3 separate regions of the Homo sapiens genome follow, and all the other regions are linked to region 1. The links come from fine-mapping of genetic effects on gene expression. A gene starts in region 1. Each other region holds a variant in brackets. All regions are shown on one strand. Distances are from middle to middle.

Region 1 (2,500 bases):
ACCTACTAGGCGGCGCCCGCAGTCTCATTCGGGTCAAGACGCCTCCGGTTCTTGAATTTGATTACCAGTCTAGCAAGTTTCTTTCCTGCCCTACTGTCCCTTTAAGGAGGTGAACCAGGTGAGGCCGGGACTCCGCCCCCGGCGCTGGCCCCGCCCCCCGCCCCCGCCCGGCCCGCCCGGCTCTCCTAGTCCCTTGCAACCTGGCGCTGCCATCCGGGCCACTGTCCCAGGTCCCGGCCCGGAGCTATGGAGCGGCGCTGGCCCCTGGGGCTAGGGCTGGTGCTGCTGCTCTGCGCCCCGCTGCCCCCGGGGGCGCGCGCCAAGGAAGGTACCGACCCCCGCCCCCGCGCCCCCAACCCCCGCGCCCCGCCCCTTCCCGGGGCCCGGCCAGCACCCCCCTGCAGAAGCCGGCATTCCTAGGGGCCATGTTCCCCGAGACCCTCGCCAGCTCTCTCGCTGTGCCCGACCGCCAGGCTATCGACTGGCCAGGCCCATCTTTGGTCTTTAACCCCAAGCGGCTGCTCTCCCGGGTCAGTCACCCCCACTCCCGCAGGCCAGCAATCTGCTCCTGGGAGTGGGGAGGGAATTCCGGACCCTTGCCAGGAAGTAGCACCTGCACCCGCACCCCTGCCTGCATTCCCAGACAGTCCCAGCTTCAGGTGCCCACCCCAGAGATCTGAGCCCTTGGAAGTTGAAGGTGGGAAGTCGCCTCCTGCCAACCTAGGCCAGGGACAGAGGGAGCTGCCTCCGGGAGAAGGGTTAGGACTGACGCCACAGGGGTTCCCAGTTGTCCGAGTCGAATATTCCATGTGAAAGTTGGAACACCCTCTCCGGCCTTACTCCCCCCCACTTCCCAGGCAGGTAGCTGTGCCTCTTATCCCCACTTCACGGCTCTGATCACTGGCCAGGTCAGGCCAAAGCAGGCTTCGGACAGTGGAGGTGAGCCTCCCTACCCAGGAAACCCCTTCTGAGGTCCCCGGTCCACCCTGCCCACTCCTGGCTAGCAGAGGTGAGCTCCTCCTGCCCTCCACGCGTTCCAATCCTGCAGCTGATGGGTGTCCCAGGACGCAGCAGCCTGGGTAACTGAGCGTCTCGTGGGGCTGCTCTTCTTGCATTGACTTTGGTCAAAGACCCAGCGCCCCAACCCTTGTCCCACTCTACCTGCCTTCCTTCACACACACAAAGAAGAGTGAAATCCCTGGAGCTCTTCACTCCTCAGTCCTGAGCCCTTTTTCTCCCCTAAGCCTCAGGAAGTCACAGCTTTTAGGAACAGGATGTTGCAGCCTGGGGCTGAGGCCCCAGAATGATTAATGTGGGCTGCAGGGGCACCTCCTCCCCCAGAGGTGACAGACTTCTTTTCTCCCCACTTTCAGTTACTCTGATGGACACAAGCAAGGCACAGGGAGAGCTGGGCTGGCTGCTGGATCCCCCAAAAGATGGGGTAAGTGTCGGAAGAGGGAAGGATCTTGGAAAACTCCTGAAGGCCAGTGGGAAATGGGGTGGAGAGGTGGGTGGAGGAACAGAGAAAAGAGCAGGAAAAACTGGAAGTGTCTCCTCAGGGAGGGGGAGAGGAGGCTGAGTCAGAGCCTCCTCAATGGGACAAGGGGTGGGGGGGTCAGACTTCACCTCAAGATGAACGCTTGAATGGCCTGGCTCCTCCAGTGAATACTTGGGAATATTGTGAATACAAGCTGATACTTGTGAGGGGGAGAGGAGCTCACATACCCGGGGAGAGAATGCACCATGCTGGGGATGGTTGAAGGCTGAGACCAGTGCTTTGCTTGGGGAGGGATAGAAAAGGCAGAAAAGCATCCTCAATCTGAGATCCATTCATCCCAATGAAGTTGCATTGATAGGTTTCAGGGGGTGGGGAAACCCCATGAAAGTGTACTCTAAATTCTGTATATGTAAGCGGGCATTTTTTTTTCTGGAGAGACCAGCCAAAGCTTTCATCAAATTCTTCAAAGGGTCTTTGACTCCTCCGAAGTTAAAAGCTGCTCCCCTAAAGGTTTCTGAGCCCTTAGCTCATCCTCCACACCTCCTCAGGCTGACTGCGTGCACACCATGCATTCCAGCTGTTTGAAAGTGTCAGAGCTTGTTCCAGTTCCCTTCCTTCCTTGGATGTTCCTAAGACTCAGTGAACAGGTTGTGAGGTGGGTCTGAGAGAGCATATTCAGACTCAAATGCAGAGAGCAGCTCTTATGATGTACAAAAAACCAAACTCAGTTTTTTCCTACTGCACTCTCAACACAAATCACTTCGGTGACCTGTGGTCACCAAAATGCGTGTAGGGATTCCTCCCGCCTGCAGTCAGTTCTCTCTGGCAGATTCTTCAGTGGACAGTAGCTGAGTGTCCTCTAATCTTATTCAGTTCTTACACTATCTACCTGGAGATAGCCTCAGGTTGAGGGCTCAGCCCCACAAGACTGCCCTCCTCTAGACAACAATCACAAGTAACATGTTGTCACCTATACTTCTGTTCCATCGGCTGTAATCAGGT
Region 2 (2,849 bases), 780 kb after region 1:
AGGCCAAGGAATCTGTAACAAAAAAAGCTTGTTAAACTAATCCTCACCTTCCTAGTCACTTTGCCATTCAACCAGCAACCCTAGCCTAAGCCCCTTTACTTTTTCACCTTTCCACAATGTATGACCCTTTGCCCAATTCAATATATGAATGTTCAACTCTAACTGCACATTCAGTTCTTCCTTTAATTATGGGGGCTTTCATGTGATGTAAAACTTGTATTAAATACATGTGTATGCTTTCCTTCCTGTTAATCTTCCATTCTCAGGACCAGCCGAAAAACTGCAAGAGGGTAGAGGTAACATTTTGCCTTCCCTGCATGGTCCATTATTTCTTCACTTTGTGACCAGGGTGATTAAATACACAGATACACACACAGCCACGAATCTGATTACTAAAGAAGTCAAATGTTGAAAACCTCAGTGTCTCCTATTAAGCTTTATGTTGGATTCTGTATCATTTACCTTGACCAGTAAGGTTCTGAGTGGTCTGGTGCCTTCCTGCCTTCTTCAATTTTGCCCTGTACTCAACCACCTCCTCCCCCTGCTCCTGTCACTCTGCTGACTTCTTTCCTGTCATTAAACACACTAATTTCTTTCCTGATTAAAACATTTTGCACTGGTTCTTTAATCTTTCTTAAATGCCCTTGAATTCATTATCCCTCGTCCCACTTAATTAACTCTAGCTCATCTTGATGTAAGGTATTTAGGAATAATATTTAAAATTTCTTCCTATACCTTTTATTAAAAGGAGGATAACAATTAAATATGCAATATCAGGGGCTTCAGACTCTCCAGGGAGTATTTCATCAATAATTACTTTCAAGAAATTAGACATAGTTCATTTTTTAGGATAAAAGAGTCTTAACTGGTTTTCAAAAATGGCACCAGATAGGAGATTACAGATAAAAGACACTCACATATTTATGGGTAGTTAAAATTGACTACTGGTCAGTTAATAGGAGTCACACTGCTTTCCACATTCCAGAATGGAAAAACAGCAGCAGAGGTATGAAGTTGAGAAGTAGCTTATCAAATATTCATCTTTGGACACCTGAGATGGTGCATGTACTATAGCAAATGGGTTGAGACTCTGGGAAACCAGTTCGAGAGATTATTTTTGACATTAAGAATGGGGATATCCAAGGATATAGAGGAATTAGACGACCCTAGCTCCCTTGAAACCTCTGAAATTCTTCCCATGGCTTCTCCATTACTGGGAAAAACAGTGCCTCCGTGTGTGTGTGTGTGTGTGTGTGT[A/G]TGTGTGTGTGTGTGTGTGTGTTGGGGAGGAGGATGTAAGAGTCTGTCTCTTACCTCACCCATCACTGCCTCTGAAAGGTGAACTTGATTTTAAATACAACAAAGCACAGAGAGTAGAATATAAAATCAGAACAAAAAGTTCAACACTTCAAAAAGAATTGCTAATCAAAAATTTATGTCATTCAAAATTTACAGGAAATGTGATAGGATTTTATTTTGTTGGTACTTGTCCAAGGAAGACAGAACACAAATATGGACTGAATGCTGTTCAATGCTGTTGTCTCGTTTCCTAAGGTAATATAGGTAGGCAGTAGGCTGTGTCCTTGACAGTCAGCTGGTTTGGGAATGTCAGGTCTGAACCCAGCAGCGTTCCATGCTAAATGTCACCGAAACACTACACTCCTCAGCTTAACGTAGACGGAAATAGTGACTGCGTGAAATAGGAATGTAACCACTGTCTCCCTGTTTCATGCCAGAGCCTTAAAAGCTCTTGTCTTTTCCATGCCGTTAGTGAAGCAGTGGAATATTTTATAAGTATTTTACTAGCTCTGTTCTCCAGGCTGAAAACGCTAACAGAGTAAAAGGCTACAACTAAAGTGGGTCCTGAGATCAGTGGCAATGGCACAGTCTGAGGTGACTGAACCCAGGTGGGGTATTTAACCACCAGCAACACACGGTCATAGCGGAGACGAAAAGCAGCAGCGTGTTCACTGCAGAATTGGCTCCCATCTTGTTCCAGTCAGTTCCACCTTGGTCAGGGGCCAGGTGTCATCTCCACGCTTTCACGTTCACCCTTATTGTCTAAACCCCTGTTCTGTGTTGCAAAGGGTTGACAAGGGTCCAGGTCTGTTGGGTGGTAGGTTGTCCGCTGTGATTAATTCAGCAGCCGATATCTATATGAGGATGGTAGCAGTTAAGCCACTGCTATTTCACTCCTGGTTTTGACTATAAAATGCCCTTGATCCTTTTCTTGTAAGAACTCTAATCTATTCATTTATTTGTTTTCTCTTCTTTTTGATGCTATATGCATTCAATTTTATTTATCTTAACCTGTGGTTCATAACACACAGGCATTGCTTGTCAATGAATATTTTTAAAAAACATAATAGGAACTTGTAAAACTTCTCCTCCTCAACATTATGCAAGATAGACCTTGATAATATTTCAATGTATAGCCATATAGTTCTCTCTCATTCTATTTCCTGCCATGCCCCAGCCTTATAAAAATCCTGAACTTGGGTCATTATTATTCCCTGCCAGTAGTGTGTTGGTAAAGGGTAAAGGGTTGACAGCTAAGTCTGGAGGAAAATAAAGCAAACCGTAATTTGCTGTGTTTGCTAATTTCTGTAGTGTAAATACCCTCACTATGGCCAATTTCAAGCTAACAAAATGATGTCACTAAAACTGGAGTTGGGAAAAATGTATACAGTCAGCTCCCATGAGCTGATAAAGTAGGCTCCAGCATACAACTCATCTTTGCTTTCCTTTCAATATAATTTGTTCTAATATATTTTAGTCCTGAAAATTATTTTCTTGACTTGTTTTTAGCTTTATGAAAAGCACATTATGCTTTGCATAATCTCATTAGACTT
Region 3 (2,849 bases), 24 kb before region 1:
GGTAAGGACAGATTGCATCAACCCACCTTCTTTCCTTTGCTCCCCAAAACTCTTCTAAATTAACTGTGAAAGATTTTTGAGGCCAAGTGCAGTGGCTCACCCCTGTAATCCCAACACTTTGGGAGGGCAAGGCGGGCAGATCACAAGGTCAGGTGTTCAAGACCAGCCTGGCCAACATAGTGAAATCCCGTCTCTACTAAAAATACAAAAAAAAATCAGCTGGGCATGATGGCATGTGCCTGTAATCCTAGCTACTCGGGAGGCTGAGGCAGGAGAATTGCTTGAACCGGAACCCGGGAGGTGGAGGTTGCAGTGAGCCGAGATCACGCCACTGCATTCCAGCCTGGCCTACAGAGAGACTCCATCTCAAAAAAAAAAAAAAAAAAAAAAAAAAAAAAAAAAATTGAAATTAAGGCATAAATCCAAATAAAATAGATAGAAGAGTGATCAAAGATACAACAGCCCTAAGAAAACAGAATTCTATCCAAGCAGAAGGAAAAGTCAAGAATGAACCGACTTTTACCCAAGATTTGCCATACCAGGTTCCTCTAGAGAAAAACTAGTTAAAAGTCAGTTTAAGATTCAGATTCCCAAATCACTTTGTATACCTGGGCAACCACCACTCTCTCACCCTAGTATTGTCTGGAAAGGATAAAATGGGATCACTGAGCTGGATGTATCTATAGCACAGTTGAGACAAGGGTACTATACTGAGACAGGGACATTAGGTGAGCAAATGCTCTCCTCTCACATGGTTTTTAGAACTCCGGAACCCAGGCTTTTACCCTACAGGCAGATGAGTATCGTCTTTTCCAAGAACTCAAACATTCTAAAAGGAAGACATAAAGACAATATCAGATATTCCTCAAATAATTAGTCCAGCCAATCACTTTACAGTGAAGCCCATAATTAACAAGTCCCATTCATGAGTTCAGAGTTTCCAATCAGCCTTTCCATCTCTTTTGCACAGGAGCAGACAACGAGGAGCTTGGGACATCTGAGAATGGCACCTAGCATGGAAAATAAGACCAAAACAAAACAGGTATTTGGAGGAAGAAAACAATGCAAGGAGAAGAAAGCTTTGCCAAAATGATATCAGTATTCTCAGAGTTATGAGAATATAATAATAACATACAAAACAACAGGTTACTGTTTAAAAGAAATACTCAAAATTTTTTAAAAGAAAGTTCTTGGAATTAAAATGACAATATCTGAGATTAAATGTCAATAGAAGAGCTGAAAGCTAAAATTTATTAAATATCTCAGAAAAGAGAGCAAATAAACCCATAGGTTAAAAACAAAACAGAATGCCAATCTGGGATGTCTAATAACCAAGAAATAGGAGTTCTAAACAGAGAGATGTCATAAATGGTGGGAAAAAAATCAACAAAATAGATGCAAAGTTCCCAAAGCTAAAGGACGCGACTCTTC[A/G]TATTAGAAAGACTCACCAAGTATCTGTCTCATTTCATACACTTTTAGAAAACTGAGCACAAAGAGAAGTTCCTACAAGCTTTTAGAGAGGAAAAGGAGAGGAAAAATACTAAATTCAAAATATAATATTAGGAATTTTATTTTAGACTTTTCCATAGTAATTTTGGAAGCTAGAAGGCAACAGAGCAATGTCTTCAATATACAGAAGGAAAATTATCTCTACCTTGGAATTCTCTATCTGGATACTCAAGTACAAGGACAAAATAAAGGCTTTTCAGGCAAGCAAAGTCTCCAAATAAAGTTAATTTTTTATGTTCTCTTTTTCTGGAGGATACTGGAAAATGTGTCCCTCCAAAGCGGGAGAGTAGGCATGATAAAGGAAGACATGAGTCCAGGCAACATGAGGTGAAAGGTGAGAGACAGGCGGAGGAGGCCACCAGGAGGACTGTAAAGGCAGACCCAGGATGGAGGGAGGTACATCAGGCCTGAGCATAAGTCCAGACTGGAGCAGGATATGAAGCCCCAGGAGAAATTTTCTCAGGCAAATAAAATTTGAGGATACTTGATGATGGAATTGAGAACAAAAAGCAAACAAAACAAGGTAATTGTTAAATCAATGGAAACAAAAATGTGTACAGGAAAGAAAAATTAATTGCAGTTTAATACATGGTTTCACCATGAATAGCATTTGCATTGGCATAATATTTTAAACACTAAATATTGATTTTACCATTACAATAAAACTATATTGAAAAGTGGGAGACAGAAGGTGTTTGCCAGGGGAATGAGGGTGAGGAAGAACTAAAGGTTCATATTCCATAGCGGAAAGCACACACACACACACACACATGCACATACACGTGCACATGCACACACACATACACACACACACACACACACACACACACACACCAGGTAAAAGAGTTGAAAGTAGTTGCCTTGGGAAACAGGAATTGGAAGAGGATGGAAACGAAAGCCTCTATTTTTAAAAAAACAAACAAAGAAATGTCCCTTTAAGCAGAAATACCTGGCTCTTTGGTCTAGATGCATATATCACTTTGACAAAATCTTAAGAAAAAATGAGAAAAGTCAAGAAGGAGAGGGGTACAAGTAAAAACAGTCAAATTGGCCCTCTTTGGTTTTCGTAAATCATGGTGCCTCCTAGAAGCAAAGATTCATTTTCCTCTCACAGTTAGGTACTTGACTGCTGTCCTCCGTAAACAGGAATTAAAGTGATCTAATATTACTCATAATTTTATTAAAATCTTCCAAGTATGTGTTCTTCATAATTACTTAGAGGAAGAAAGGGCAGAAGACAATATGAGTCATGTTTCTAAAATGGCTTAATCATCTTGCAAAAAAAATCCTAATCCAAGATTTCCATTTCTCAAATAATAATTTTTCTCCTGATTTTTTTT

What was found.
Region 2: its variant is fine-mapped to the expression of EPHA1-AS1 in neutrophils (BLUEPRINT, PIP 0.95).
Region 3: its variant is fine-mapped to the expression of EPHA1-AS1 in whole blood (TOPMed, PIP 0.90).

The regions. Positions count from the first base shown.
Region 1 is chr7:143,406,552-143,409,051 of GRCh38, reverse strand. It overlaps EPHA1-AS1 (EPHA1 antisense RNA 1), which reads right to left and starts at 1,239. Exons shown (of 5, transcript NR_033897.1): 1 at 1,166-1,239. It overlaps EPHA1 (EPH receptor A1), which reads left to right and starts at 196. Exons shown (of 18, transcript NM_005232.5): 1 at 196-328; 2 at 1,374-1,441. The coding sequence starts at 247. RefSeq lists an enhancer at 1-124.
Region 2 is chr7:142,628,884-142,631,732 of GRCh38, reverse strand. It overlaps TRB. Among named protein-coding and RNA genes, the nearest start is that of PRSS1, 120 kb to the left of the region's middle. The variant A/G (reference allele first, on the strand shown) is at 1,258.
Region 3 is chr7:143,430,346-143,433,194 of GRCh38, reverse strand. All of the region lies in intron 2 of EPHA1-AS1 (EPHA1 antisense RNA 1), which reads right to left. Among named protein-coding and RNA genes, the nearest start is that of TAS2R60, 12 kb to the left of the region's middle. The variant A/G (reference allele first, on the strand shown) is at 1,432.